Linked DNA regions of Homo sapiens: regions 2 and 3 are each linked to region 1. Evidence: fine-mapped QTL for protein levels in blood plasma. A gene starts in region 1. Each other region holds a variant in brackets. All regions are shown on one strand. Distances are from middle to middle.

Region 1 (8,290 bases):
TTCCTTCCTTGTCTCCTGGGGCTCACTCTGCTCTGACTCAGGGGACAAGACTGTTTTGTTGACTACAACCTCCTCAACACTGCACAGAGTGGAAAGATACCTCCCTCCTCCTGCCAGACTTTGATGTCTGTGTTCTCTTCTTCTCACCTCTGGTACTTTGCCCAGTACTCAGGAATGCTTCAGATGACAAGACAGACACTGTCTGCATGCACCTGAGGTGCCTTGGAGACTTAGCTTATAGGCAAATAGATTGCACTGTCGTAGGTTGTACTGTGAAGCCACTACTGGCAACTCCTACTCTGTATCGGTGTGATTTTTTTTTTTAAGAAAACATTTTCAATGATCTGTTTAATTTAAATAAGAAATATCATTACATGCTTACATATTTAAACAGTACAAAGGATTGTACAGTAATAAAAAATTATTTCTCCTACTGACTTCCCCATACCCTGATACAGTATCATGCCTTCCCCATACCACAAATGGTAGCAAGATATGTGTATTATTTTGCTTGTTATTTCATTAAACAAAATATGTGAGACTACCTTTCCTACTGATGCATATGCATCTTGTTCATTCTTTTTAATGGCCACATAGTATTTCGTTACATAGGTATGCATAATTAATAAAATAATTCCCCATTAATGGATATTTACATTTACAAAAATGTCACCAACCTTTTGTTACTATGAGCAATGCTGAATAAAACCTTATAAACACTTCTTTGCACAGATGAGCCTGATGCAGTGGGGAGACTACTTGGCTTTCTAGTGATTCTTAGATTCTTCATGTGTGATTGGTTTTTGAGATCTAACATAGGACATCATATTTATCCTTGCTGTCTTTTAATGTTTCAATACAGCATGCCTGCCTAGAGAGATGTTTGGAATCTGTTTCTTGCCCTCCTATCTTCATGTCCTTTGCCAAAAATATCTTTTTCTAGTTCATAAATAGTAACATCAAGCAGGATAGGAATGGTGTCATAGCTCTGTGGCACTCCCTGAGTGACTTCTCTTTGTTTTCATCAACTCATTAACCCTTAAGTTATTTGACAGATTATGAATCTATTTAACTATCTGATTGTCTTCCAAGATATTGTGGGATTGGGATGAATTGACAACCTCTTCCTCTACCTTACCTCTACCCTCATCTCTTCTATCAGAGAGAAAACTGGAATAAAAATAATAAGAAAAATAAAAGTCCCATTGGAATTTTCTCTATAGGGTAGAAAAGAGAGCAAGAGACTTTTTTTCCTCATTCCAGGCTCTTATTTTATTTTTTCATGTTCATATTAGTTCTTCCAAGGGTTTATATCGAATACTTCAAGCTTGTCAAGGAAAAATAATGGTTTCCCAATATTATATCTAATTGTGTTCCCTATTACTCTAACCCACGTGATTTATATACCTTATACATTTTGACAACAATGGCATTCCTTTTAGTATTCCCACTAGGTAAGAATACCACCTTGTTCTCTCCCCTTTATCTTTGTTAGGTAAAAATGAAAGGGTTATTTCGATTTATTGATACAAGAGGCAACTGAACTTGGATCTGTCCTTCAAGATATCCTTGCACAATGAAAACAACAAATGTTATTTTTCTCTGTAAACATTATATAGAGATGTTTCTTCAAGTCTTTTATTTTTGTTTATTTTTTTAATGGACACATTGTAAATGTACATATTTATGGGACCCCCATATCTACAAAAAACACTTAGCTGGCCATGGTGGCACATGCTTGTAGTCCTAGCTACTCAGGAAGCTGAGGCAGGAGAATTGCTTGAGCACAGGTGTTTGAGGCTGCAATGAGCTATGATCATGCCACTGCACTCCAGCCAGGAAACAGCACTCCTTCTGGATAAACAAATTCAAATTCAGAATAAGACCCTGTCAAAGAAAAAAAAAAAAAAGAAAGAAAGAAAAGAAAAAGAAAAAGAAAAAATCAAGTCAGTATTTTTTTTTTTGAGATGGAGTCTAGCTCTGTTGCCCAGTCTGGAGTGCAGTGGCACAACCTCTGCCTCCCAGGTTCAAGTGATTCTCCTGCCTTGGCCTCCCGAGTAGCTGGGACTACAGGTGTGTGCCACCACTCCCGGCTAATTTTTGTATTTTTAGTAGAGATGGGGTTTCACTATATTGGCCAGGCTGGTCTCAAACTCTTGACCTCAAGTGATCCGCCTACCTTGGCCTCCCAAAGTGCTGGGATTACAATCATGAGCCACTGCACCAAGCGTCAAGTCAGTATTTTGCGTGACCATCACCTCATCCATTTCTGATTTCTTTCTTTGTGGTGAGGACATTCAAAGGCCAGAGAGCAAGTCAACAGTAAGTGTGGTGTTTCTTGTAATCCAGCCAGAATCAGTGGATAGAAGTGAGCTAGAAGTTCCTTCTCAGCCCAGTAATAGAATGTATACTGGTTGTGGTGAAGACACATTGCTTCAGAGGTGACATAGGAAAGGAAGGCTGCTGGCCAGGCTATCCTGGACCTGGAATTTGGGGTGCACATTAACCCTTGTTTACAGACCTAAAGAAGTAGTTCTCTATTGGGGGCATTTTTCCCCTGGGGGACATTTGGCAATGTCTGGAGACATTTTTTTGGCTGCCATAACTGGGGAAAGGGGGATTGCTAGTGGTATCTGTTGCATAGAGGCCATCGATGCATCTCTCAACGTGCAAGGCAGTCCCCCTCCCCAAGAAAGAATCATCTAGCCCCAAATATCAATAGTGCCCAAGTTGAGAAACTCCTGGTCTAGAATTTTTATCCTATACTAAAACTTATACCGTGGAGCTTAGCGGATTGGGGAGAGACAAAAATATGCATCTGGTCAAACTCCAGGTCACATTCCTAAAGATTCTGATTTTATTAGTGTGAGGTAGAGCCTGGATATGGTATTTTCATGAAGCTCCCCAGGTGACCCACATAAACAAGGTTGAGAATGACTCCCTGGAAAGTCTGGTCTGATGGAGGCCACAGAATAGACTGACCTCCCCCATTTCCTTGCGACTAGGGGGTTATTTAAGGGTTGTTGGTTCCCTGAAGAGGTAGCAGCAGTGGAGAAACCCACAGGAGATGGAGCGAAGTCCCCCCAAGTGCTAGAGAGGGTAAGATGGACGTTCAAGTCTGGGGCTTTTGTGAGAATTGGGAAATGGCACTCCTTCTGGATAAACAAATTCAGAACTTCTAGGTGAGTGCCCCCAGGGCTCTTAGCCTAGCTATCAGACCAGACTACTGTGGCAGAGAGAAAGATGCCCTTCTAGTGGATGTGGCCCCTGCCAAGACGCAAAGCTCCCTGAACCCAAAGGCATTTGGATTTTGGCTCCCACTTGCCCCTTCCTCTGGATGCCTTTGTACAGTGCCCAAACTGCACAACCTAATGCAGCAACTCCAACTAAAATTTGCCTTAGCTAAGATCTTTCTGAGACAGCAAAGGGGCAACGTATTGCCTTACTGATTTAACAAGAACTAAACAACCAAAACAACAAACAAACAAACAAAACTATGAGAGGCTTACTCAAATGCCTCAAAGAAACCAGATCCGTCCTGCGGGCAGCCTAGAAACCCTGTCCTGATGCCAGGATCCAGCGATGCCAAGCCACAGGGAAGAGGCTCCAGTCTGGTCGTGGTATCTTTGGGGTGGTTGAGAACAACCCAGGAAATGAGGAAATCTGGCTGCAGGAACCTACAGCTGGATCCCCATGGCTGTGGGTGAGACAGAGAACTTTCTGTGCCTTGTGCTCTCCCATCAGCTGATCCTGGAAGGAGAACCTCAAGCCCCATCCTAAACCGCAGCAGAGCAGGCACGCACCCGGTCCAGTCCTTGATTTATTCCTTTGCAAAAGAGAAACAAACTAACAAAAAATCTGTAGTATGGACTTTGACGTCGGCAGAACTACACACCTAAGTTCCAGTCCCTGCTCTGCCAGTAACGGGGGTGAATCTGGGCAAGTTTCTAAGCGTCGGTGTCTTATTGGAGAAAGTGGACATGGTAATAGCGAACTTGGGGCATGGTCGTGAGGATCAAAACAGAGAACATGGCCATAGTATCCGGCCGCAGTGGGCCACTCTGAATCCCCTCGGTTGCCCCTTCTGTTTCCGTGTGACTCACGCAGCTTTCTGCACAGATGGTATCCTTCTAGACGTCTGGGATGTTCGAGGCGGTTGTATTGAATACCGTGTGTGTATTCCGGGTGAGGGGGCGCGCAAATTGGGGCAAAGAAAGCTACTTCAGGATATTTCGCTCTGCTGGGGCTTGTCTCCAGCGCTCTCTGGCCAGAAAAAGCGCTGGCACAAAAGGAGGAGGTGGGTGGGTCAGAGCCCCGAACCGCGCAGTGTTCCAGGGGGGGCGGAGAAAGGAGGGCAGGCCCCAGGCAGGAAGGAGGGAGGGAAAGAGGCGAGAGGAGGAGTTTTCCAGCCCGGCCTTCGCCCGCCCGCTAGCACGCAGTCCCTTGGTCTCTTCGGTCTCCTGCCGCCCCCGGGAAGCGCGCTGCGCTGCCGAGGCGAGCTAAGCGCCCGCTCGCCATGGGGAGCCCCGCACATCGGCCCGCGCTGCTGCTGCTGCTGCCGCCTCTGCTGCTGCTGCTGCTGCTGCGCGTCCCGCCCAGCCGCAGCTTCCCAGGTAGGATCGGAGGCGTGGCTGCCTCCTCAGCTGGGCACCAAAGACCCCCGGAGTCGCCGTTGGGACCCTTCGCTCGGGATAGAGGGAGGTGCCGGGGGCGCCCTTTGTTTGCGCAGAACTCCTCTTTCGCAGCCCGAGGGTGGGGATGATGCGGATCGGGGCTGGTGTCTGGGCACGCGCCGGGAAGAACTGACCATCCCATCTCCAGGCGCGGGGCGCCCTCGCGGCGACGGGAGCCCTAGCACCTTCTGCGTCCGGGCTTCCAGAGTTCCAATCAAACCCTTTTCGGTGTAGGAGGCTCCACAGAGAAAGTTTGGCCGCAGACTAGTTTGCTACTTTCTCACCCCCAGAATTTTGCCTCTCACATGGTTGCCCACTGGAGGCTGGCAGCTTGTCCTGGAAGGAGCCTCTATGCCCTCCCACTACACGTCCCAGGCTACCCCCTTGGGGCCGCAGGACACGAGCCACGGTAAAGCGACTTTTGTGGAAGGCACGGGCGGGGCCTCCCCTGAATCTCTTAACCCCCCCTGCTGGGGATTCCGAGAAAGTCTGCGCCTCTGAGGAAGAATTGCCAGCTGAGAGTGGTGACATGTGGCATGCACTTGATTAGCCCCAGGGAAAGAGGGCTACTCGCGCAAGGATCTGCTGGGCAGAGGGTGCGGCTTATTCCTGGAGGGCGTGGTCTCCGGCATCTAAGGGGGCCCTGGTGTTTCTTGGGGGCTCTCATGGTGTGAGCAAAATTCTCTTTGGAGATGCACTTTAAAAAGCTCCAGCTAACTTCCTCACCCTGGAGTCTTAGGTTAGCGAAGAGCTTCAGGGGAGTAGGGCAATGTGCCATGCACTCCTGTTGCCTCGGAATGGAGAGGAAATCCATGGATGCGTTTTAATTTAGTGTTAATGGGAAAGTGGGTGACGTCGGCTATAGGGCGTGCAAATATTTGGCTCTGCGTTCAACACCGTGGGCAGCTTAAATCTAGGGTATGAGAAATGAACCTACTGAGTTCTGGTAGAAGGATAGAGGATGCCCATCTTTCTAGCAGTGTGCTTGGGAGATGTAGGGATGGCTGCGGGAAATTCTCTGCACGCACCTAAATAAATGAATGAATAGAACAAATTTGTAAATTAATAAACAGGAACATTTGTGTTTTGAGCTGACTCTTAAGTTTTAAGCTGCTTTGTAGGAACTGATTCAGGGTAAAGTGGAAAGGAAATTTTATCCTTACTGCCAGGCAACTGTTATTCCCATGGTGTGTTAATACCTCCTCTCCCACCCCCTTTAGCAGGAATCAGGTTAAAATGAACCTGTAGGGGAAGAGGAAGTCATTAAGCGTCCCAGAAGCAGCTTTCTGGGAGCGGGCAAATAAGGTGAGAAGCTAGAGGTAGCTTTTCCGCACTGAGTTGGGAGGTGCCTGTGAGCTGCCTGGGAACCTCAACTTTTAGTTGAGCCTTTCTCAAGCTGGGGACCCCTTCTCCTTTTCCATCCGACCTCCCTCCGTTCTCCTCCCCTGCCCTCCCCTCTCCTTTCTCTCATCTTCCACCTTTATATAGTACAGCTTGCTACCAGGGCCCAGCCACAGAATCATGAGTTCGCCAGTTTGGGCATTCACTACCACCTGTCTTTTGGGACCTATCCCTGGCTTTCCTGGCTCCCTCTGCCAGCCTGCAAGCTGCTCCCAACTTTTAGCCACCATGTTCCTGCTTGCCACCACCTCCACTGACTCCTAACCTGCCCTCCGGCTCTGCTCAGACCACAAATGAGCTGAAGCTGATTGGAGCTGCTTGATAAACACTCCTCTTGAGCCTCCTTTTGGCATGGCTCAATGGGGTCTCTTGGGAAGTGTGCTCCGCTGAGGTTGTGAGATCCAGAGGAGGGGATTTCAGTCCAAGCCAGAGGCTTTGGAAGGCTGGGGAGGGGAAAATCTCTAGGCCCTTGGGTCTGAAAGCAAATCACATAGGCTGAGTTCACTCTAAGTGCTGGGTGACAAATTTTAAAGATCATTTCAGAGACACTCTCTTAGCAAGTGGACATCATATCTTCAGTAAGAGAGAAAGTGAAGGACTTGAATCTGGAACTTCTGAAAGAAGATGGAGATCTAGGGCTCCATCAGCAAGTCGATTATGTAACTATCTGCACGTGAATAGCACATCTGTCAGAGTGAGAGTAAATCATTCTCATTCCCACTCCTAGAAGGTCTCTGGAGTTCTTCCATCTTAGAATTTAATGCAGCTTTTCTGGCTCTCTGATCTATTTTTTGCAGCCTAGCAAAGATGCAGTGTCTATAAAAACCTACATGAAGTGTATGGAAAATTTGTAGAAAAGTTGTTTGTGTTTGACTGTGTTTGTATGCTTATAACAGATGAGAATTTAGATTCTGTTCTTAAAATAATTCTTAGAGCTGTATTTGCATGTGAGATAGTGGTGGTTCACTCTGCCTCCTTCTGCAAACAAGGCTGAAGATGGAGAATGAGTACCATGGCCTCTAAGAAAGGCTTCGTGAATCTTACATCTGGAGAAAACTGGTAAAGTAGCGTGGTTTTACTAGTCAGGAAAACCAAGTGAGGTTTGCTAAAAGCCAAACCAGACTACATCAGCTGAAGCAGTCTTTTGAAATACCACATTTGGAGATAAGTACTAGGAATGGAGCACCTAGCTCAGGTTATATAATTAAGGTGTCACCGGGAACAGGCTAGGAATTCCTATTTAGATTTAAAACATGTAATCAGCTGACAAAAGTACTCTGCAATGAAAAGGAAATATGCTGGGGAGAGCAGGTCATTTTCCTCTGGCATTTTCTTCATTGATAACACTTTCAGTACAGTACAATGTTGTTTGTTAGTTACTACTCATTTCGCAGATTTGGGAGCTGAATGAGACACCAGAAACCATTGTTAAAGCAGCGTCTTCACATCTTCCCACCTCATCAGTCCTCGTACCATAACCAAAGTGCTGCTTTTCTCTTTTAGATTATTGCTATAACATTCTCACTTTTGGTCTCTCTAATTCTAGCTCATTTTACTTTCTCACTTTAGATAATGGTCTTTTAAGTCCATTGACTTTAGTACTGTTTTTTATCACATCACTCCCTTACTCAAAAACTTAGGGCAGCAGGTCCCTGTTCTCACTCAAGTAAAAAGTTCTCAGTTGTTTTTAGGGGGCTACACAGTTTGCTTCTAGCCTAATTTTCCAGTCTTTTCCCCCTGGTTTCCTAAAATCCTATCCTTATAGAACCTGAGTCACATTTTCCTTCTTGGCAGATGCTGCTTTCTGTACCTGGAATCCTTCCCCCTTGCCATTTGTCCAAATTCTGCCCATCATCCAGCAACACCCCCACTTTGATGAGACCTTTTCTTGATCGCTCCAATGGGAAGCAACGTGCCTTCCTTTTAACACCCATGGTCTCACTCATGTCTCTTATATTTATCACATATATCACATATTTGATAATGCTGTATATTATCATAATTTATGCACTCTTCTTCTTGTAGATTTTAAGACCTTGGAGGCAGGGGCCGTGCTATGTCTTACCCTTATTTGTATTTCCCACGGTGCCTAGCAGAGCACTTTGTGCCACATGGATATTTGTGCGTAATGGATTAACAGTGCCTGTAACTCCAGTGATGGGCCATTGGACAGGAAAGGAGCTGAGGGAAACATGTGCACAGGTACACAGGGCTTT
Region 2 (8,290 bases), 43 kb after region 1:
GTTCTCACACTACTGAAGAAGCCATTTGCTGTTTGCCTATCAGTGATCCCAAAGCCAGCTATCTCATTTCTTTGAAATTGTAGGCGCAGAAGGCAGTAAGGCCTAGTGAAAAAAGAATGATAGATTTGAAGGCCAGGCAGACAGGATTCGAATCCCTGATTTACCATTTACTGGCTGCATAACCTTGGACAAGTAAAGACGTTAGAGACTTGGTTTCCCTAATGATAAATCTAAAATAGTACCAAATGGCCAGTGTTATTGTATAGATTTAATGAGATAGTGCATAGAAATTGCCTAGCATAGTACACATATCATAGGCACTTAGTGTGTGTTATTTCCTTTCCCATGTGAATTCAATTGCACAGAAATCAGATTGCATTTAGCTTAGCAGATAGACCAATTCGGAAAAAGAGTAAGTTTGACTCCAGTAGGTTTTTTTTTTCTTTTTTCCTCCTTACTCATCTATGTTCACATAAAAGTCCCCTCTCTTATCTACAAAAGACTTGTGGGTAGAAAGCAGTGTGCCCTGTGTTAGGGTAGTGTCCAGTTACTAAGAGAAAGCTATAAAACCATATATTCATTTCTTAATTGGTTTGCTTAAATATCTGTTAGGTTTAATATAGGAAACAGAATCCTCTCTAGGTATTTTATGCAAAAAATGATTTAATGCAGGAAATAAGGTACTCACAAAATTGGAAGGGCTGGAGCAATGGAAGTCAAGAAGTCTGCATTAAAGGTCAAATGGCACCATGACTTCAGTCCAGATGCCAGAAACTCCTCCTATCACTCAGGCTAGGAAACTGTTGCTGCCGTGATTATCACCACTGCCAACGTCACTATCCTCCCTACCACACAAAGCTGATGAGGGGACAGTGGACACAGTTGACAACACTCACATCTGCTGTAGCCTATTTTCTGCATGCACAACTGTAGAAAAGAGTTCCTTCCCTTTGATTCCTTCCAAATCACTAAAAGTAGACCCTTTCACAACCTAGGGATAAGGGAATCTAGAAACTGTACTTTTCAACCCAATGCCAGGCTTTCTTCCGCCTTACCCATGTGAAAGCCCTCCTTATCTTACTAATCTGTGATTCCCCTGCTGGGCTATCTGCCCATGTGCATTCTCTCTTTGCCCCTGTTTTCCCTCTATGCCCTGTTTGGGCTCTGACATCCTGCTCTGGCCTACCATGCCTCCCTGTCCTTTCTGGTACAGATGTCTGCCTTGCTCTAAAGGCCTTAGAACTCAGTTGTTCAAGAAGAGAAGATTAGGAAAGGGTAAGAGGTCTCCTTGCTTTGTTAAAAATTACCGTACATATCTTTGTATTTCCCAACAATTTAGTGTTAGAAGTTTTTGAACTTTATAAAAAAGGAGTCGTATATATAGTATATAGTCTTCTGGGACCAACTTTGCTCACAATATTATTTTAGTTTTATTCATCCATATTGTTGTTCTCACACATGAGCTTTGCCATATTTTAAAATCTTAATGCATTTTTGCATTTTGGGGGTTATGCTTCTTTCTTTATTCATTCAGCATTCTATAATATTTTCCCATGTTAAGAAACCTCTTCAAAATGAACATTATTATGTTATGAATGGATCATAATATGATTGACCATTTCTTGTAGTTGGATATTTAAGTTAATTCCTATCTTAGAATGTGGTAGATGAAGAAGATAGAAGAAAAAAAGGCTGAGATTTTCCATGTGGCAGAGTAGCTGGAAGATGGTTATTTGCTGAAATGGGAAACACTGGGGGATGCACAAATTTGGTGATAAGAAAAGGAATCTGGTTTTGAGCAGGTTGAGTGTGAGTGTGGAGATATCCAGACAACAGTTGAAGATTCTAGCTTGGCTCTTAGGAGACAGTTCAAGGCTAGAAACAATGGATTTATCATCAGTACATGGGGAATGGTTTGAGGCAAGTATGGGAGTGAGATGGCCCAGGAAAATAGTCTGGAGATATGTAAAGGACCAATACTGGACTCCTGGGAAATACTTATGTCCAAATGGCAGGCTGATCTAGATGTGCTGTCCAGAGAGTCTGTTTAGAAAGGAGGAAGAAAATCGGGAAACTGTTGTCATTTGGAAGCCACTGCAGAAGAGAGCTTCATGAAATGAATGGGTAGTCATTCATACTAAATGCTGTAAATACTGTAGACAAGTTAACCAGGATGACAACCGAGGGCAAAATATATGTATGTGTGTATATGTGTGTTGGAGGGCTGGGCGGGGGGAGAAAGCTTGCTGCTCATGTATCTGGATTTTTTTTTAATTTGGATGATTGAAGGTTCACATGCAGACATGCAGTTCAACTGTTTCCTTGGGTAGATTCCTAGAAGTGGAATGACTTGATCAAAGGGTTTGAGCATAGGCCTTTGATTCATGTTGTTAGGTAGGTTTCCTGGTTTTCATTGTTTTTTGTTTTGTTTTGTTTTTGAGATGGGTTCTCACTATGTTATCCAGGCTGTTTTTTGAACTCCTGGGCTCAAGTAATTCTCCCACTCAGCCTCCCTAGTTTCTGAGATTACAGGCATGAGCCACTGTGTCTGGTTCCAGTGCTCATTTTTTTATATGCAATGATGAATAGTTTGTAATTTTGTACACATCTGGGTGTGCAGAGACAAGGTGAGGAAATCTGCAGCAAAGGAAAATACAGAATTGGGCTTCTGTAGTTGCGGGTCTTTTCCTAATGAACACAGTCCAGCCCTCATCTCCTCTCCACTTTCAGTTTCCACACTCTACATCTCTCATCCAGAACACAAGTGGAACAGGGACCATTACTCATTAGCTGCATGGGGATTTGAATAACCTCACAGTGGAGGATGTTCTTGTCTGTTATGGTGGCAAGTAACTACAACTAAATGCGTGACCAAGACAGAGCTAACTCGAGTCATTAATTAGACTGTGAAGTCTGGAGGGAAGTTCTCTGAATTTAAGATTACAGTTTTGAAGTTTGGCATCTGCTACCACTTCAAGGATTAAGGATTTACTGCTCACTGGAATTCAATATTTAATATTTTAAAAACCATTCAGCTCCAGCTTGCAAATGAGTTAAATTAAAATAATACACAGACGTTCTCTCTGAGGCCGTGGTTTTTATTGGTAGCAACGCTCATTAAGAAATTTTACTGGCTGGGCACGGTGGCTCACGCCTGTAATCCCAGCACTTTGTGAGGCCGAGGCGGGCAGATCATCTGAGGTCGGGAGTTCGCGACCAGCCTGACCAACATGGAGAAATCCCGTCTCTACTAAAAATACAAAATTAGCCAGGCATGGTGGCACATGCCTGTAATTCCAGCTATTCAGGAGGCCGAGGCAGGAGAATCCCTTGAACCCAAGAGGCGGAGGTTGCGGTGAGCCAAAATCACACCATTGCACTCCAGCCTAGCAACAGAGTGAGACTCCGTCTCAAAAAAAAAAAAAAAAAAAGAAATTTTACTTGAGCCATACGTTCATGAGAGGTTCTAAATAAGCACACAGATAGTCTATTTCAGCCTTCATTTCCTACAAATGCTGTATATAGAAGCAACTTTGTGTTTCTTTTGTCAAGATAAGACATTTGATTTACCTCCTTATCTTGCATTTAAATTTATTTCACAAGATGGACCTGTTTTCAGGTACCATAAACACCCAGTTCTACTGGGTTTTCTTTGACTGCTGGGGAAACTGTGGACTGTGTCTGATGCACACATTTTATTGCATCTCCCCTGGCATGAGATTCATATACATTGGCATCTTCTCAGAGTGAAGTTGACTCTCTCTGTTTCCCTATTCCAGAATTTCACTTGGCATATGGTGATTCCAAAACAGTTTGAGGCTCATTTTGCTTGGTTTTTGGCAATCTCAGCTCAGCCGGTTTCACTCTGAGAGATCTCCTGTTTGTTCCTTCATGAATGGCCACAGAAGCTTTTGCTCTTGGCTCTGCATTCTAATAGCACCTCCTGCATGGTCTGTGGCAAAGGAATGCTTTGAAATATGCGTCCATACTATGTGGCTTTTCTTGCTGCAGTTTCTGTTCTTTTTTATTGTAGGATCGGGAGACTCACCACTAGAAGACGATGAAGTCGGGTATTCACACCCTAGATATAAAGGTGAATGCTTTGCTTATGTGCTAATGAGGACCTGCTGGTGCCAGGAGAACTTTCCTTTTTGCCTTGTGAAACAGATTGTAATAAAGTGACCAGACAACACATTTAAGTTCTAATTATCTATCAAGGAAAAAAAAATATATATATATACTCCCTTTTTTAAAAAAGGAAATAAAGCAAAATGCATTGGAAATCTCTGAAATGCTGTCTTTCAGCATCCCAATGGTCATTTTATTCTCATAAGTTTCTTTACTGTCCTCACTTCTGCAAAGGCAGCTGTAGCTGATGAAAGTGAAAATCAAGCCTAATTCATACATTACAGCCAGAATCATCCAGAGTAAACCACCTAAGGTCAAATCTGGACCAAGTGCTGATAATGTACTAAGATGAATGGGGAAGGAGAAAACTTGATTTTCATAAGCTCATTTCATCGTGCTCTTTCTGAGCCCAGCATGGCTTCTGAAACGGTATGTTAAAGTATGTTGCTCAAATGAAACTTAATGATAAAGAACTCCATCTCTACATATTCCCAGCAATCCACTCCCCAGCACGTATAAAAAGCCTAAACAAGAACCTTCTGTCCAGACTCAGG[T/C]AAGTATGTCCACAAATATTTCTACTGGTGAAACATTTCTCTGAAGCTTAGGGAAACCTGGGAGAAATGAAGGTAAATTTAGAGATGCTTTCTCTCTGAATCTAGTTCCTCTTACAGTGGAGGAAGAATTTGAAAAAAAAAAAAAAATGGTTAACAAAGTTTCACTGCGGCATTTTGCCCTGGAAATTTGTCCTAATTCCTGGGATGAGGACATGGCCCTTGTTTGTTGTGATGTGTCTCAGATACAGGAGAATCAGGGTAGGACTGGACAACTTTTGACTGGAGATGTCCTTCAGTTGTTTTCTACACAAGTGAACAATATTTCCAATATAATGACTGGTGCCTGGTGCTTATGTGCAGGTGTGCTTCCCATCACATACCACATTTTTTTGTGAGATCTGAATGCAAATACTCATTCCTACCTATAGTTTCTATCTCCATAGCCTCAGGAATTAACCAATCAAGCAAAGCACAAATACGTTAATCAGATGCTTGGGGTAAGGAAAGGTTCTAATTCGCAAAACTTCTTAACTATTTATGGGTTTAGATTTTTTTTTCTTTGAGTCCCTTGTTGAAAAATCTTCCTAAAACACATGCATGCACAGATGACCCTTCACATCTACAGCAGGGGTTGCCTAGTGCCCTCAGGTCCTTGTTCTTCACATCCATCTTCACCTCACAGCATTGCAAATGTGACAGGTAGACCAGATGGCCAAAATGTGTGCTTGCCCTAGAACTTACCCTGAATGTTTAAGAATAAATTTTCTTAGGGCATTGTTTCTATTGTCAGTTAAATTGCTTACTGGTAGCAATCATTTCAGTATGTATAAGTATATCAAAGCATCATGTTGTGCGCTTCATACAATAAAATTTAAGTTTTATTTATTTTTATTATTATTTTTTGAGATGGAGTCTCACCCTGTCACCCAGGCTGTAGTGCAGTGGCGTGATCTTGGCTCACTGTAACATCCGCCTCCCAGGTTCAAGCGATTCTCCTATCTTAGCCTCCCAGGTAGCTGGGACTACAGGCACACGCCACCACACCCAGCTAATGTTGCATTTTTAGTACAGACAGGGGTTTCACTATGTTGGCCAGGCTGGTCTCGAACTCCTAACCTCAGGTGATCCACCCACCTTGGCCTCCCAAAGTGCTGGGATTACAGGCGTGAGCCACTGCACCTGGCCAAGTTTTTTTAATTTTAAAAGCTAGAGACAAGCCATTATTAAGTGAGGGTTTAGTTTTAGATCCTGAGGCCCCTGCACAATGTCCAGCACAGAGTAAGTGTTTTTGAATTAAAGTAAAATAAGAAAGAAAATTAAATGTAACCAACATTTACGGTGCTCCTGGTATGTGGCAAGCATGGCTTTTGATTCTTTTGCTTGGAATACCATCATATATTCATATTAATTGAGTGAGTTTGTGATGTATGAGTATGCAGGTCATATATATACATACATTAGTTCCCCCTTATCTGCGGTTTCACTTTCCAAGGTTCCATTTACCTTCAGTCAACCGCAGCCCCAAAATATTAGATATTTTGAGAGAGAGACAGTACATTCACCTAACTTTCATTACAGTATATTGTTATAATTGTTCTATATTATTATTAGTTGTTGTTAATCTTTTATCATGCCTAATTTATAAATTAAACTTCATCATAGGTATGTTTGTGTAAGAAACAAACAGTATATATAGCGTTAGGTACTATCCAAGGCTTCAGGCATCCAATATCCCCCGTGGGCAAAGGGGGAGTACTGTATATCACAAATATATGTAGTACATACAGATTATATTAAAACCCTTAGAGGAAGGAAAATTTATTCAAGGAAGTTCTTTAGGCCTTGTGTGAGCTCCTACACGTTTATATCCACATGGTTAAATTTAATCAGCTCTAGGTTAAGCCTTTAGGACATCACCTTTACCTAGAAAGTCCAGGGAAGATTACTTGAGTCTTGAGTTTAGGGCTCACTTGCAGCTGTCTGCAAAACATGATATGACGAAAGTATTAGCCAGACCAGGGACGGTGGTGCGTGCCTGTAGTTCCAGCTACTTGGGAAGCTGAGACAGGAGGATCACTTGAGCCTAGGAGGCCGAGACTGCAGTGAGCAATGATCATGCCACTACACTCCAGCCTGGGTGACAGAGTGAGACCCTGTTTCTAAAAAAGAAAAAAAAAAGAGAAAGTATTAGCTGAAGGAAATGTGAAGGCAAAACTAAAACAGTGGTCTATGCATAAGACGTGGCCAGAACTGTTGGTTTTTGTAACTGAGAAGCAGTTGGAGGCATATCCTCAGAAGAGAATTCCTGGGAAAGTAAAACAGGGTCTGTCCTCCTTCCTGGCCACATGATGGCGGTCTTACCTCACTCACTGACAGCTCAGGTGCTGGGTTGGAGTGATGAGCCAGGCAGTTGCAGGGAAGTGGCTCCTATTCATGGCATTGAGAGCCCGGCAGGCTTTAGGGAACTCCTCACTGTTCCCCATCAATTGTGGGACAATGGGGCAGTGGCTGCTGTAGGAACTTATCCACCAAGGAGCTAGTGTTGCCCTTATATTTTATGGATCTCAAAGAGAACATTTCAAAAGCACAGCAGGGAGGTTCTGATTTATTCATTTCATCCCAGCTGTGCTTTGGGCAACTATGAGACCAAAATCAAAACACCTGCAACTTTGCCATCTGGGGAGGGTGTCACCCTGTTACGTAAATGGGGCATAACTGGGGACACTTCTCTATGGAGAGCAATTGTTCTGTGACTTTAAGCGAAATTTATATCTTGTTACAAACACCTGGAAATTGTAGCATCATTTAGATTAATGCCAGTATTACAACATTTTAGAGAGAATGTGCATACGGCTCAGACGAAATCCAAATTAACCAATTATTGAATCCCTACCGCTATGTATGACATCAGTTGCCCTTGAAAGAATTATCTAAAAAATAAAAATAAAAAATCTTATGTATCTAGTTAAGGGAAATACTAAAAAGAACAAGCATTTATTGAACATATATGCTAGGTACTGTGCTAGATGCTTGATATGCAATTTTTATTTCGTCCTTGTAACAGCACTATGGCATAAGTATAGATATTGACTCAGAGAGGTTAGCTAACTTGTCTAAGATCACACAGTCAGTTATAGAGGAACTCAGATTCATGTTCAGATATATCTGACACTTAGTCCCATGATCATAACCTCCCTACCCGGAGACACCTAAGAAAACATGGGGCACTAATTGAAGGTCCAAAATTTGGAATGTAGCCAGCCTGGGACAGTAAGAGTAAGGGGACACATTTTCTGAAAGTGTCATTTCATATTTATCTCCTCTTTTGTTTCTGCTACTTGTAGATACCCCGTGGTGCTCCCCCATCAAGGTGAAGTATGGGGATGTGTACTGCAGGGCCCCTCAAGGAGGATACTACAAAACAGCCCTGGGAACCAGGTGCGACATTCGCTGCCAGAAGGGCTACGAGCTGCATGGCTCTTCCCTACTGATCTGCCAGTCAAACAAACGATGGTCTGACAAGGTCATCTGCAAACGTGAGTAGGCCAGCTCTGTGTTGGGTCCTCAGGGATGACCAGAGCCAAAGTTCTTTTGCTCTGAGATTGAGG
Region 3 (6,140 bases), 63 kb after region 1:
GAGACTTGCCAGCTTTAGATTAGTCTCTAATAAGGCTTGGGGAAGTGCCCTATCTTAATGCCTGAATTTCACGATACACATCCGGATGGGCGTCAGTGTTGCCAGATTATTTAAGGAGTTCCCAGGACTAGTCTTACAGGATCCCATAGCTGACTGTCCTAGAAGAATATTATTCAATAATTTTTCCATCCCTGAGCTTAGGTGGCCAGCTGAAGCCTGTGAGTCCATCTACAACCAGGGTGAATAGGAGCCCCCTAATTTGGGCCACCAGGAGAACATGTTTTTAGTGTTCTAGTACCATTGGTATGAAAGAAAATGTTTTTAAGGATTATTTTATGCCTGATGGTTTGGGCAACTAATTGCTAACCATCTTTACTCCTTACTCTTCTGGACTTCACTTCCTCATCTATAACACTAGGGGCGAAACCAGTTGATATCAGTGGTCTCATTGGTATGGATGGTGACCATTGCAAGACTCACTCACTGACCAAATAGTCATCCCTCCTCCCTCACTCATTTCACAGGCTGATGTAGAAGCCTGATTGCAAAGCTGATGCCTCTGCATCCTCACCTTTTCTGCTTACTCTGTGGATGGGAGCTCAGCACTGAGACCCCTCTGGACTTGTGTCCCTACAGTCAAACGCTGTGGCAAACTCAATGCCCCAGAGAATGGTTACATGAAGTGCTCCAGCGACGGTGATAATTATGGAGCCACCTGTGAGTTCTCCTGCATCGGCGGCTATGAGCTCCAGGGTAGCCCTGCCCGAGTATGTCAATCCAACCTGGCTTGGTCTGGCACGGAGCCCACCTGTGCAGGTAGGTATGCCGCCCCTCCAGCCTGCAGCAGAACCTGTAAACCCCTTGGTTCTTGATTCCAGTGCAAGAGAGGTTTCCCTTCATATACTTTGAGAAGTTCATGGCCATCCCTCTTTATCTGAGTGGATGAACATAGTCCCTAGATCCCTGCTGCAGCTCATCTCATCTGCCATCCATCTTGCCCCTGCCTATCCTCTAATTTCCTTTTCATGTCCTCTAAGGAAGAAGCTCAAGGTAGGAACCTAGGGCCAGCCTTTGGTGACATTATGAATCAGCAAAATTTGCTCTAGTTTCCTTTGTTCTAGAAATGTAAGGATCTTATTTATAAAGCTAGTAAATTGCCATGTAGAGACAATATCATACCTGCTTTGCATCACTGGCATGAAAGTTACATAGACTTTGGGCATTTGGAATCTTTCCTCCTATGTAAAATGAAGAAAATAATACCTCATCTACCTCTTGAGTTGTAAGGATTAAATGAGGTCATCTGTGGAACAGTGGAATAGAGCAGTGCCTGGTACAGGCAAAGCCTTATGCCAGCTCTTATTCCTGATGAAGAAAAATTGGGCTGGGTAATGAGTCTGAAACTTGGACTAGCCAGAAAATTATGTATGTATCTCTTGTTTATAGACTTCTCTTTTTCTCATTTCCTGGCACCCTTTCATCTTTATCACTTTCTTTTAATTGAAGCCCCCATTTAGAGTTAAGTGACAGAGAGACATATATACCATCAGCTAAATGCCTGAGATTCTTCAATTTCATGTATTAAAGTAGAAAGAACACACCTATTATAGACTCCCTACCTAAGGACTTCATGCCCACCACCTATGAGGCTATTCTGAATTGAGATATGCTATAAGTGTAAAATATATACCAATTTCAAAATCTTAGTGTGAAAAAGAATATAAAGTATCTTAATTTTTTATATTGATTACATGTTGAAATGAAATATTTTGGATATATTGGGTTAGATAAAACATAAAATCATTTCTACCTATCTCTTTATATTTTTTATTTGTTTGTTTGTTTGTTTGTTTGAGATGTAGTCTCTCTCTGTCACCCAGGCTAGAGTGCAGTGGCGCGATCTCGGTTCACTGCAACCTCTGCCTCCCGGGTTCCAGTGATTCTCCTGCCCCAGCCTCCCGAGCAGCTGGGACTACAGGTGCCTGCCACCACGCCTGGCTAATTTTTTGTATTTTTAGTAAAGACGGGGTTTCACCATGTTAGCCAGGATGGTCTTGATCTCCTGACCTCGTGATCTGCACGCCTCGGCCTCCCAAAGTGCTGGGATTACAGATGTGAGACACTGCGCCCGGTCTCTTTACACTTTTTTAATGAGGCAACTAGAAAATTTAAGATTAAATATAGTGGCTTACATTGTATTTCTCTTGACCAGAGCTATCCTAGACTCTGAGTCCCTGGGGCAGGGAAGAGGGCAGGAAAGAGGGCAGGAACTGTGTATCACTCAGTGTGACATCCTAGTACCTAGCATAGAGCTTGGCACATGGCAGGCACTCAGTATATAATGGCTGAATGAATGAATGTGTGAATGAACAAATACTTCAATGCAAACCTAAAATGTGAAATATGAAAACCAAGATTATAAATCATACATGGCATCTACTAGTTTTTCTCTTATTATTTCTTCTCTGGGGCTAAGCCTTTTGCTTGCCTATCTATACGACATCCTTCATTGACCTTGAACAGCTGGAATTAGTTGTCATTTATTTGCTTAAAGGGAAGACCTATTATAAAACCGCCTTGTCCCATGTCCTGTTTGCCTGTGTTGTTTGCTCTG[T/A]GGCCTTTGTGCCCCACATTGCTTTGTCCCTTCTGCACCAAGGAGGCAGACTTCAGAGATTCTGAGCCATTCCAAAGCCAGCCTGGCCACTGCCCATTCTCTTACCCTTCTGCCTCTCTGCACCCCTTTCCCCAGCAGATACTATGGTGCTTGGCCCATATGCCTTTCACATTCCCATCTGTGTTCAAAAGGCTACTTACTGCAATTAACTGGGTCTGTCTGTCTGAGAGCATTTCTTTCCTGGCTATGAAAGCATTGTCAGCCCATGCACAGAGCCAGCTGGAAGTGATGGAGAGTTAGTGCCCCAGAAGCAGCCCTCAGCAATGATGGAGCAATTGTATAAATACTCCAGTTCCCTCCAGTGGGTTAATTCTGGAGGTATGTTGTATATCATCTCCTAGAGTTCCCCAGTGGGAGTGAGTTCCAAATGCCCACAGCAAAAACTTGCTTGATAACCAATTGGTATTGTTTTCTTTCCTTCACTGTCTCACTTCCTGACATAGACAGAATAATGGTCCACCAAAGATGTCCACATCCTAGTCCCTGGAACCTGAGAATATGTTACCTTACATGAAAAAAGGGACTTTACAGATGTAATAAGTTAAGGATTTTGAAATGGGAAGAGTATCCTGAATTACCCAGTGGGCCCAATGTAATCACAAGCCTTCTTATATAAAGGAGGCAGAACTGATGTCAGAGTCATAGAAAGAGACGATGGAAGGAGAGGTCAGAGAGAAGAGAGATTTGAAGATGCTACACTGCTGTCTTTGAAGATGGAGGAAGGGACTACTAGCCAAGGAATGAATGTGGCCTCTCGATGCTGAAAAAGACAAGAAATCAGATTCTCCCCTAGAACCTCCATGGGAGCATAGCCCTGCCAACACCTTGATTTTAGCTCCATGAGACCAGGATCTTTTAGATCCTGACCTGCAGTATCTAAAAGAATAAGTTTGTATTATGTTAAGTCACTAAGTTTATGGTGATTTGTTACAGCAGCAAGAGGAAGTGAATATACTTCCGTACTCCTCCACAGGCGCTTCTTGGGACTGCCTCCCAAATAAACTGTTTACACTTGAATCCTTATCTCAGGGTTTACTTCTTACACAAATGGTTCTGTGTGTCATCATAGGCTCTGTTGAGCCAGAACAAGTGGAAGGTTTCTGACCCATGTGGCCATTTCTGATTACAGCCATGAACGTCAATGTGGGTGTCAGAACGGCAGCTGCACTTCTGGATCAGTTTTATGAGAAAAGGAGACTCCTCATTGTGTCCACACCCACAGCCCGAAACCTCCTTTACCGGCTCCAGCTAGGAATGCTGCAGGTGAGTCCTCGAGGCAGGGCCAAGGTGAGAGGGAGACCTTTAACAGGAAGGGCCCAGCCATTTCACTAAAAGCAAAGGCCAGATTCAGTGCCTAATGCACTTACAGTGAGTTTCAGGAAGTGGCACTTTAGAGCTACCACCATTCATTTCTGGTTCTGGGCCATAACCTGATTAACATTGACTCCTTAGAGTTAACCCAATCGTTTTCCAACTAATGAGGTTTGTCTGTCTTCACCAATAAGTCTAATTGACATGCTGTCCAGGCCTAGCCACAGAACAATTGTCTTTGCCAAACCTGTCCAGGATATGCCTGGCTGGAAGCAATCAATTGGTTGCCTGCCCACATTTTTCCCCAGGGAATTTCTTTGACTCAGAGGGTGACAGCCATTTTTTCTTAGAAAAGTGGTTCTCAACGTGTGATCCATGGACCGGACCAGAAGCATCAGCATCACCTGGGAGCTTGATAGACATGCCAATTCTCAGGGCCCCTCCCAGACCTACTGTGTCAGAATCTACACTTTTAACAAAATCTCCAGGTGATTCCTAAGCACTCTAAAGTTTGAGGGTCACTTTTCTGGGAAATGTGTCCTTCTCAGCTATGTAAATTTTGTAGCTACTAAATGAGGCAACCAACATCTTGGGTGTGTGGGGAAGGCTGACTAGAAACTGTAAGGATCAAACTAGAAATTGCTTGCTTTTGTCCTGAGGCTGGTTTGCAAAAGAGTGGCCAACTTCACTGAATACTAAAGAGGCAGGATGTATGCTGTGCCATGGATACAGTGCTGCACATTTTTTTGAGACTATTTTATTCATTTATTACAGTGGATAGAACTAAGTGCTTAGAACAGTATTGATTTAATCAAAGGCTACAATTTACTTCTCATATCAGCATTAATAAAATGGATAATAATAAGTCTCTTTTCACTCTTCCCACGTACTTGAAGAATTGCCTATGAACTCTGAAGAGCCATATAAAATTTTTGTGAGTTCCCTTGATAGGAACCAAATTCATTGCATCTTTACCCCTGGTCCCCACCAGCTTACCTCCCCTTGTATCTCCTTGTCCAAGCCAGGGGCTTGCTCTTCAGAAAACACAAGCTTATACCTCTGTCTTTTGTGGGAAACTGGCATTGCAGGCTATATTCCATGATCATGCATTTCCTCATCTCTTCTTATTCCATAGGAAAATGAATTAAGCCAAACAACTTGCTTTTCCTCTGTGTCAGCAAACTATGGTGACCCATGGCTAGTTTCGGTAAATTAACTTTTATTGGACACAGCCACACTAATTCATTTGTGCATGATCTACAACTGCTTTTGCACTACAATGATGGGTGAAGTGGTTAGGACAGAGGCAATCCAACCTTGCCAAGCCTGAAGTACTCTCTGGCCCTTTACAGAGAAAGATTGCCATCGTTGCTCTAGTCTGTCCCATCCCTTCAGACACTTGCTAACTTAACAACTGGTTGGATAAGATATTTTATATCAAGATGTTTTGGTGTGCCCTCCTCCTCCAAATATACTTACATTTGCATTTTAACCAGAGCCTTCAAAGAAAGGTTTGATTGACTTAGGCATTTCAGTGAGAGTAATACAAAAGTCTATTTCTAACTTTTTAAACTTTTCAACCAGTTCTGTAACCTCATATAGGGACGTTTCAGTGGAATTTTGGTAAAACATATTTGATGTTTTCGTCTTTCAAGACTTCAAAATTTCTTTTCCCATTTAGCCAAATTCATCATATTTGTCTTACATTACTTTTTTTTTTTTTATTGCCATTGCCATTCCTGATGAGCCCTCCTCGTGGTTGACTGGGCCACATTCCCAAGGTTCTTGCCAAGAGCCAGCTTAGAGGCTTGGAACCTTTTATCCTCTTTTCCCCTGGGATTGGGTGTGGAGGGCATAGGGCAGGGGAGTGTGGAGAGTGGAAACAGGGCAGAGAAGTGGACTCTGGAAATAGTCTTCTCTCCTTGCAAAGAAAAATTAGAATCCTCTGGGGTGGTCTTGGATACTTTTTAGGAAATTTGACTCACTCAAGGTCTCACCCTGTCTGGAAATACATAGACTGCCCTTTTGCTTAGGTTTTCAAAATCCCACTGTCAAGCCATATCTGAATGATTCCTCTAGCAAAGGTATTTAGGTTTTATAGCCACTATCTTAACCCCAATTTCTCATCTGTTTTCAGGACAGTTCAGAGTGAGCA

Direction of the effects. Alleles are on the strand shown, and positions count from the first base shown. The strength of an association depends on the size of the effect and on how common the allele is.
With allele T in place of C in region 2, the plasma level of the protein whose gene starts at base 4,438 in region 1 is lower (weak association).
As copies of A replace T in region 3, the plasma level of the protein whose gene starts at base 4,438 in region 1 goes up (moderate association).

Evidence for each region. PIP is the posterior inclusion probability: the model's chance that the variant is causal. The UK Biobank Pharma Proteomics Project read protein levels with antibody pairs (Olink). The fine-mapping took linkage between variants from a reference panel, not from the people measured, so its PIPs are less certain.
Region 2: its variant is fine-mapped to the plasma level of the SRPX protein (UK Biobank, PIP above 0.99).
Region 3: its variant is fine-mapped to the plasma level of the SRPX protein (UK Biobank, PIP above 0.99).

The regions. Positions count from the first base shown.
Region 1 is chrX:38,217,019-38,225,308 of GRCh38, reverse strand. It overlaps SRPX (sushi repeat containing protein X-linked), which reads left to right and starts at 4,438. Exons shown (of 10, transcript NM_006307.5): 1 at 4,438-4,613. The coding sequence starts at 4,517. LOC124905176 (a long non-coding RNA gene) reads right to left here and starts at 4,401. Exons shown (of 2, transcript XR_007068212.1): 1 at 3,510-4,401; 2 at 1,617-1,887.
Region 2 is chrX:38,174,088-38,182,377 of GRCh38, reverse strand. SRPX (sushi repeat containing protein X-linked) reads left to right here. Exons shown (of 10, transcript NM_006307.5): 2 at 4,034-4,093; 3 at 8,027-8,218. Among named protein-coding and RNA genes, the nearest start is that of SRPX, 43 kb to the left of the region's middle. The variant T/C (reference allele first, on the strand shown) is at 4,683.
Region 3 is chrX:38,154,693-38,160,832 of GRCh38, reverse strand. It overlaps SRPX (sushi repeat containing protein X-linked), which reads left to right. Exons shown (of 10, transcript NM_006307.5): 7 at 637-816; 8 at 3,804-3,937. Among named protein-coding and RNA genes, the nearest start is that of SRPX, 63 kb to the left of the region's middle. The variant T/A (reference allele first, on the strand shown) is at 2,615.